Homo sapiens: one gene and its partner. The main gene of each other region encodes a partner of the protein of the gene in region 2 in a complex. Each region holds a gene or a part of one and is shown on either strand. Other genes may lie near its edges.

Region 1 (3,749 bases), on a different chromosome or scaffold from region 2:
ATGTATCCATATTGGTAATATTTGTATTTATAATAAATCATTGCTGTAAATTTGAACTTAGAAAAATTTTACTAATAAAGGTGCTTTTGTGTTGCAAACTTTCATTTGAAAAGTAATTTTTCTTTGTACCAAAAAATCTAAAATTCGCTATTCTAGTCACCAAAATTTGCTTTATGAAAAATAATTTTTGATGGCACTATATCAGAAAACAACTTGTTAAAGAAAATGTGGAGTTTTTAAAATCCCACTGTACCTCTGTTATCCAAAGGGGATCTGTGAATTTTTCTGTGAAAGGTTAAAAAAGGAGAGACCTTTAGGAATTCAGAGAGCAGCTGATTTTTGAATAGTGTTTTCCCCTCCCTGGCTTTTATTATTACAACTCTGTGCTTTTTCATCACCATCCTGAATATCTATAATTAATATTTATACTATTAATAAAAAGACATTTTTGGTAAGGAGGAGTTTTCACTGAAGTTCAGCAGTGATGGAGCTGTGGTTGAGGTGTCTGGAGGAGACCATGAGGTCTGCGTTTCACTAACCTGGTAAAAGAGGATATGGGTTTTTTTTGTGGGTGTAATAGTGACATTTAACAGGTATCCCAGTGACTTAGGAGTATTAATCAAGCTAAATTTAAATCCTAATGACTTTTGATTAACTTTTTTTAGGGTATTTGAAGTATACCATACAACTGTTTTGAAAATCCAGCGTGGACAATGGCTACTCAAGGTTTGTGTCATTAAATCTTTAGTTACTGAATTGGGGCTCTGCTTCGTTGCCATTAAGCCAGTCTGGCTGAGATCCCCCTGCTTTCCTCTCTCCCTGCTTACTTGTCAGGCTACCTTTTGCTCCATTTTCTGCTCACTCCTCCTAATGGCTTGGTGAAATAGCAAACAAGCCACCAGCAGGAATCTAGTCTGGATGACTGCTTCTGGAGCCTGGATGCAGTACCATTCTTCCACTGATTCAGTGAGTAACTGTTAGGTGGTTCCCTAAGGGATTAGGTATTTCATCACTGAGCTAACCCTGGCTATCATTCTGCTTTTCTTGGCTGTCTTTCAGATTTGACTTTATTTCTAAAAATATTTCAATGGGTCATATCACAGATTCTTTTTTTTTAAATTAAAGTAACATTTCCAATCTACTAATGCTAATACTGTTTCGTATTTATAGCTGATTTGATGGAGTTGGACATGGCCATGGAACCAGACAGAAAAGCGGCTGTTAGTCACTGGCAGCAACAGTCTTACCTGGACTCTGGAATCCATTCTGGTGCCACTACCACAGCTCCTTCTCTGAGTGGTAAAGGCAATCCTGAGGAAGAGGATGTGGATACCTCCCAAGTCCTGTATGAGTGGGAACAGGGATTTTCTCAGTCCTTCACTCAAGAACAAGTAGCTGGTAAGAGTATTATTTTTCATTGCCTTACTGAAAGTCAGAATGCAGTTTTGAGAACTAAAAAGTTAGTGTATAATAGTTTAAATAAAATGTTGTGGTGAAGAAAAGAGAGTAATAGCAATGTCACTTTTACCATTTAGGATAGCAAATACTTAGGTAAATGCTGAACTGTGGATAGTGAGTGTTGAATTAACCTTTTCCAGATATTGATGGACAGTATGCAATGACTCGAGCTCAGAGGGTACGAGCTGCTATGTTCCCTGAGACATTAGATGAGGGCATGCAGATCCCATCTACACAGTTTGATGCTGCTCATCCCACTAATGTCCAGCGTTTGGCTGAACCATCACAGATGCTGAAACATGCAGTTGTAAACTTGATTAACTATCAAGATGATGCAGAACTTGCCACACGTGCAATCCCTGAACTGACAAAACTGCTAAATGACGAGGACCAGGTAAGCAATGACATAGCTAGCTTTTTAGTCTGCTTTGAAGTAAATGCTCAAGGGGAGTAGTTTCAGAATGTCTACCCAATACCAGTACTTGAAAACTAACGATGTTTCTGAATTCCTGTATTACAGGTGGTGGTTAATAAGGCTGCAGTTATGGTCCATCAGCTTTCTAAAAAGGAAGCTTCCAGACACGCTATCATGCGTTCTCCTCAGATGGTGTCTGCTATTGTACGTACCATGCAGAATACAAATGATGTAGAAACAGCTCGTTGTACCGCTGGGACCTTGCATAACCTTTCCCATCATCGTGAGGGCTTACTGGCCATCTTTAAGTCTGGAGGCATTCCTGCCCTGGTGAAAATGCTTGGGTAAGAAAACATGTCAGAATGCTTGAAGCTAAAAAGTAGAAGAGTATACTCACAATATTTCTGATGAGGCTTTTTTCTTCTTCCCAGTTCACCAGTGGATTCTGTGTTGTTTTATGCCATTACAACTCTCCACAACCTTTTATTACATCAAGAAGGAGCTAAAATGGCAGTGCGTTTAGCTGGTGGGCTGCAGAAAATGGTTGCCTTGCTCAACAAAACAAATGTTAAATTCTTGGCTATTACGACAGACTGCCTTCAAATTTTAGCTTATGGCAACCAAGAAAGCAAGGTAAGAGAATTATTCTTTATGTGGTTTTCATGGAGCATTGGACACCTCCAGTGTCATGTCATTCCATGCAGTGTTCCTAACCTTTTTGGCACCAGGGACCAGTTTCGTGGAAAACAGTTTTTCCATGAATGGGTTGTGGGAATGGTTTCTGGATGACACCATTCCACCTCAGATAATCAGGCATTAGATTCTCATAGGGAGCGTGCAGCCTAGATCCCTCGCATGTGCAGTCCACACTAGGGTTTCTACTCCTATGAGACTCTCATGGTGCAGTTGATCTGACAGGAGGTAGAGCTCAAGCCAGGTAATGCTCGCTCACCTGCCACTTACCTCCTGCTGTGCAGCCCAGTTCATTTCTGTTCTTTTAAATTTTTGAGTTTCCATATGTAAAGCACTATGCGAAGTAGTAGGGATATGGTAGGCAAGCTTCTCTTCACACTTTTGTTCTTAGGTGGGATGTAGATGTTGGGAATAATAACCTAATATTTAATTTGTGTAGTGGGAAGAAGTGGGGCTATGAGGGCACATAACACAAGTTGAAACTGACTCTTTTTGAGGGTTCAAGGAGACCTCTTGGAGGAAGTGATAGTTGAGTTCAGTGTTCAAGGATGAGAAGGGATTCACTAGGTGAAGGTTAGGTGAGAAAACAACATCTTTGAAACGAAGGAAGGAGATGGAAAGTTTTGGGAATTTAAGAAATACTAATAGTAAGGAGGAAGAAAGGTTTGAGGTGAGGCTATTGAGATAGACTTAGCAGATCTCATAGGGCTTTGTAGAGCATGTTTAAAAGCACAATGGGAAATTTCAGCAGAAGCCTGAAATGATGAAATTTGTTTTTAGAAAATTGGGGCAGTGTTGAAAGGGAAGATATACAGGGAATGAAAGGACAAGCATGAATGATCATTTTATGGTATCTGTTTTTAAGGTGGATATAATTAGGAAAATTAAAGGGCCAAATGATGAGGAGTTAAGTGCCAGTTCTGGTTCAAATTTTCAGTGAATCAGTTTTGATATAACTTTCATCTTAGGGCATTACTCTTGCCTACCAACATAGTTTCTAAATTTTTTTCTTTTGGTGTGATCACTGTGGGAAGAAGGAAATTGGGCCCAAACTGATACATTGTTTGGAGGACTGGGATGTCTGAATTTGAGTGGAATGCTTTAAAAGGACAAGTTGGATAGGGCCCCAGTATGGGGGTCTGAGTGATGGGGTCCAGGAATACATTTAGGTCCAATGGCAAGC
Region 2 (3,749 bases):
AAGAAAGGAAATTTTATTCTTTCTGTGACGAGTCATTTTATTCTTTTAGAATGTAATTCTGCTGACCACATAAAGTCCCAGGATTCCCAGCACACACCACACTCGATGACCCCATCAAATGCTACAGCCCCCAGGTCTTCTACCCCCTCCCATGGCCAAACTACTGCCACAGAGCCCACACCTGCTCAGAAGACTCCAGCCAAAGTGGTGTACGTGTTTTCTACTGAGATGGCCAATAAGTAAGTTGATGGCTGTGTCTTGCTGTTGGGCAGGGCTTGTCTGGGGACCTAAATTCTTATTCCCATTGCAGATTGATCTTTTATTATCACCTAAAGTTAACAGTACAGATAAAACATAAAACCTCCCCAACCCAAACTCCCCCAGAGGCAACCACTGATAATACATCCTTTGCTTCCCTTTCAGAAATTTTTCGTGCTTGTACAAATATACATATATATCTCTTTTTCTTTTTTTTTTTTTGAGATGGTGTCTGTCTCTGTCGCCTAGGCTGGAGTGCAGTGGCAGATCTCGGCCCACTGCAACCTCCACCTCCTGGGATCAAGCAATTCATCTGCCTCAGCCTCTTGATTAGCTGGGATTACAGGAACCCGTCACTACACCCAGCTAATTTTTTGTATTTTTTAGTAGAGATGGGGTTTCACCATGTTGGCGAGGCTGGTCTTGAACTCCTGGCCTCAGGTGATCTGCCTGCCTCAGCCTCCCAAAATGATGGGATTACAGGCATGAGCCACCGCGCCTGGCCATATATACCTCTTTTAAACAGAAGAAGTTGATTGCACAATACACACTTTTCTGCAACCTACCTATTATTATTTTCTAAACAACACAAGTAACAAATGTCCATTCTAGAATAATTAGAAAGTATAACTAAAAATTAATATCTCTGGAATTCACAGAGATAACTACTGTAAACATTTTTATATATAAATTTTTAGTGGATGGATGCATCAATTTTTATTTATCAGAATTGTGATTATACCCTACATATATGGTTTTCTGACTTTTTTTCCACTTAAGATAAAAAGTGAATCTTAACAGCCTTAAACTATCACTAGGTATTGTACGATCTCATCTTCCCCCTTCTTGGGTTGGGATTTTGAACTCGGATTCTCTATAAAACACCTACCACAGCGGATTAGTTTCAGGAGAAAATCTTGGTTTTTGTCTTTTAATGCCTCTTTTGGGATTTGCTAATGGCTGTCTTTTAATTTTAGAAGTTTGATGATAAGTGGTAAATATAAATAATGAAACATGTTTGTCTTGATTTCTTCTTCAACATTTCTGGTGGTTCTTTCTATTCCTTCCTCTCCCTTACAAGTTTATTGTGTGGTTAAAGTGCTTTGGAATTACAGTTAGTGAAATAGAAACAAGTTCTAGTGTGTGCTGTCTCTTCCATCTTTGCAGAGCTGCAGAAGCTGTTTTGAAGGGCCAGGTTGAAACTATCGTCTCTTTCCACATCCAGAACATTTCTAACAACAAGACAGAGAGAAGCACAGCGCCTCTGGTATGTTGTTTCAGAAACTGAGTAATGGTTTAATGATTCTACAGTGACTGCAAAGGAAAGGAGGTGGTGAATTTAATTGATAGGAAGGTAGTCTTGATGGCATGAGTTGCATTCTTGGCATTTAACCTAATTCTGGCATTGTGGGGCATTAGGCATATCATACTATACTAGCCTTTTCTACGAGAAAGCTGGTAGATTGATGAATTACTAGGGGGAAGAAGATGCAAACTAAAAGAGGAGCTATACAGATATCTTTGGGTTTCCTTCATGTAATCGTCTCTGGGAAAATCTAAATTCAGACCCTGTGTACAGAGCAGGTTTTTTAAAAATAACACTCTTGAGCTAGTTGAATAACAAAGAAAGAACAGAAAAAAAGCAACAATTAAAACTTCTAGAGTACATGATGACAGTATCATAATCAGAGCCTCATCGACTTTCAGAGTGATTCATATTTATTTCAAAGTGATAAGACCATTGAATGTTTTTAATTGCTTGATATTTGTAAAATTGTAATAAATGTTAGTCTGTTTTCTATCTGGATCTTAAGCACCTGCTATAAACTCCATTAGAAAAAGCATACAGTGGCCGGGCGTGGTGGCTCATGCCTGTAATCCCAGCACTTTGGGAGGCCGAGGCAGGCGGATCACAAGGTCAGGAGATTGAGACCATCCTGGCTAACCCAGTGAAACCCCGTCTTTACTAAAAATACAAAAAATTAGCCGGGCATGCTGGCGGGTGCCTGTAGTCCAAGCTACTTGGGAGGCTGAGGCAGGAGAATGGCCTGAACCTGGGAGGCGGAGCTTGCAGTGAGCCGAGATTGTGCCACTGCACTGCACTCCAGCCTGGGTGATAAGAGTGAGACTCTGTCTCAAAAAAAAAAAGCATACAGTGGATGTTTTAATGCATGTAGTTTACCAAATTGAACCAAAAGATACTTCTTGTATCTGGCATCGTCAAGCCATTGCACCAAATGCTATGGGGGATACTAAGAAGTTCAAGACACAGTCCCTGCTTTCAGGGAGCATGAAATCTAATACTGGGATGAGTCTTAAACATGGGAAAAGTTAATTGACAATAAATGATCAAAGTGACAATTCAAGATAAAATAGGTGACATCTTTCCTATTTTGTGTATCAGAAAAGTCTCCATCTTTGTAGACATAAGCAGAGCTTAGGCCTTCCTAAACTTAGAAAAGGAATTTCATATTCCCCATGCATCTTGACTACTCAAGGGTAGAAGATGCATACAGTTATATTTAAAATGCTTATTGTCCTGGAATGAATATAGTACAGTGTAACTGAAACCAACCTTTTATTGACTTAATGGCAGTTCTTAATACCTACACCTTAATACCTACACCTACACCTTCTCTGGTACTAAAATCAGGAAAGGAGTTAAGGAAGGAATTGGGAATAATCCATTGTTCCACATCTAAATGTTTTCTGACGTCATGGTTTCGTTATATGAAATCAGTATCCACCCACAACAAACAAAACCTGACCAACAAAACCAAACTTAAAATGGCACTAGAAGGAAAATCAAGGTGACCTCTACACTCCAGTTAGGAGTGTGGATATGAAATATACTTTTAACTGTACAGAATCATACAAGATTCAGCTGATCTTACCCACACAACTCTTTACCTATAGGCAGAAGTGCATGGATACCTCAAAATCCAACATTTATATATATATTCACAGAATATAAGTGCTCAAAGATATGTTTTCATGTGTATACAACACAAATTGTTCATATGCAGAGATACACGTAATTATTTGTTTACATATTTGCACACAGGTAAACATTCCAGAGAGTAGGTGAGGAGGTAAGAGCCTGAAGGGTTTGGAAATACAGACTGGATTAAGCGAACAAGTAGGAGCAAATGAACACGGAAAAAAGGGTCTGGAGAAAGGCCTTTGGTGAAAGGTCTCTGAGACAGGGTTTGTAGATCAAGTCCTTCTGTTCATCAGTGCCCTCTTATATTTCAGCAGTGCTCTTGGTTTAGACCCAGAACATACACATCTCTCTTCCAAACATTCAAGGTGTCCATGTCACCTATTGTAGGTGAGTGTGCTTCTACCCTGGACTTAGTATAGCAGTGGTACTTAATAAACAATAATAAGGCAATCATCCAGCATATTAAAAAAGGGCAGTCTACTGCCTATTGGAAAGAACAGTTCAAGAGACACCATGAGCTAGATAGCCTCAGATTTCTCCACAGAAG

What was found. Proteins that work in one complex are often made in the same cells at the same time.
Region 1: the proteins of BCL9 (region 2) and CTNNB1 are in contact, whole or in part, in a crystal structure (PDB 3SL9), measured with the Homo sapiens proteins. Residues at the interface, in NP_004317.2 of Homo sapiens: Asp349, Leu351, His358, Arg359, Ser362, Leu363, Thr365, Leu366, Ile369, Gln370, Met372, Leu373; in NP_001091679.1 of Homo sapiens: Leu148, Arg151, Ala152, Glu155, Leu156, Leu159, Asp162, Asp164, Val166, Val167, Lys170, Ala171, Met174, Leu178.

The regions. Positions count from the first base shown.
Region 1 is NC_000003.12:41,223,356-41,227,104, forward strand, and holds part of CTNNB1 (catenin beta-1), read left to right. Parts: intron 1-665; 5' UTR 666-713; coding exon 714-726; intron 727-834; exon of another isoform or gene 835-966; intron 967-1,170; coding exon 1,171-1,398; intron 1,399-1,598; coding exon 1,599-1,852; intron 1,853-1,978; coding exon 1,979-2,217; intron 2,218-2,304; coding exon 2,305-2,506; intron 2,507-3,749. UniProt on the Homo sapiens protein: Key downstream component of the canonical Wnt signaling pathway.
Region 2 is NC_000001.11:147,614,378-147,618,126, forward strand, and holds part of BCL9 (B-cell CLL/lymphoma 9 protein), read left to right. Parts: intron 1-49; coding exon 50-239; intron 240-1,425; coding exon 1,426-1,525; intron 1,526-3,749. UniProt on the Homo sapiens protein: Involved in signal transduction through the Wnt pathway. Promotes beta-catenin's transcriptional activity.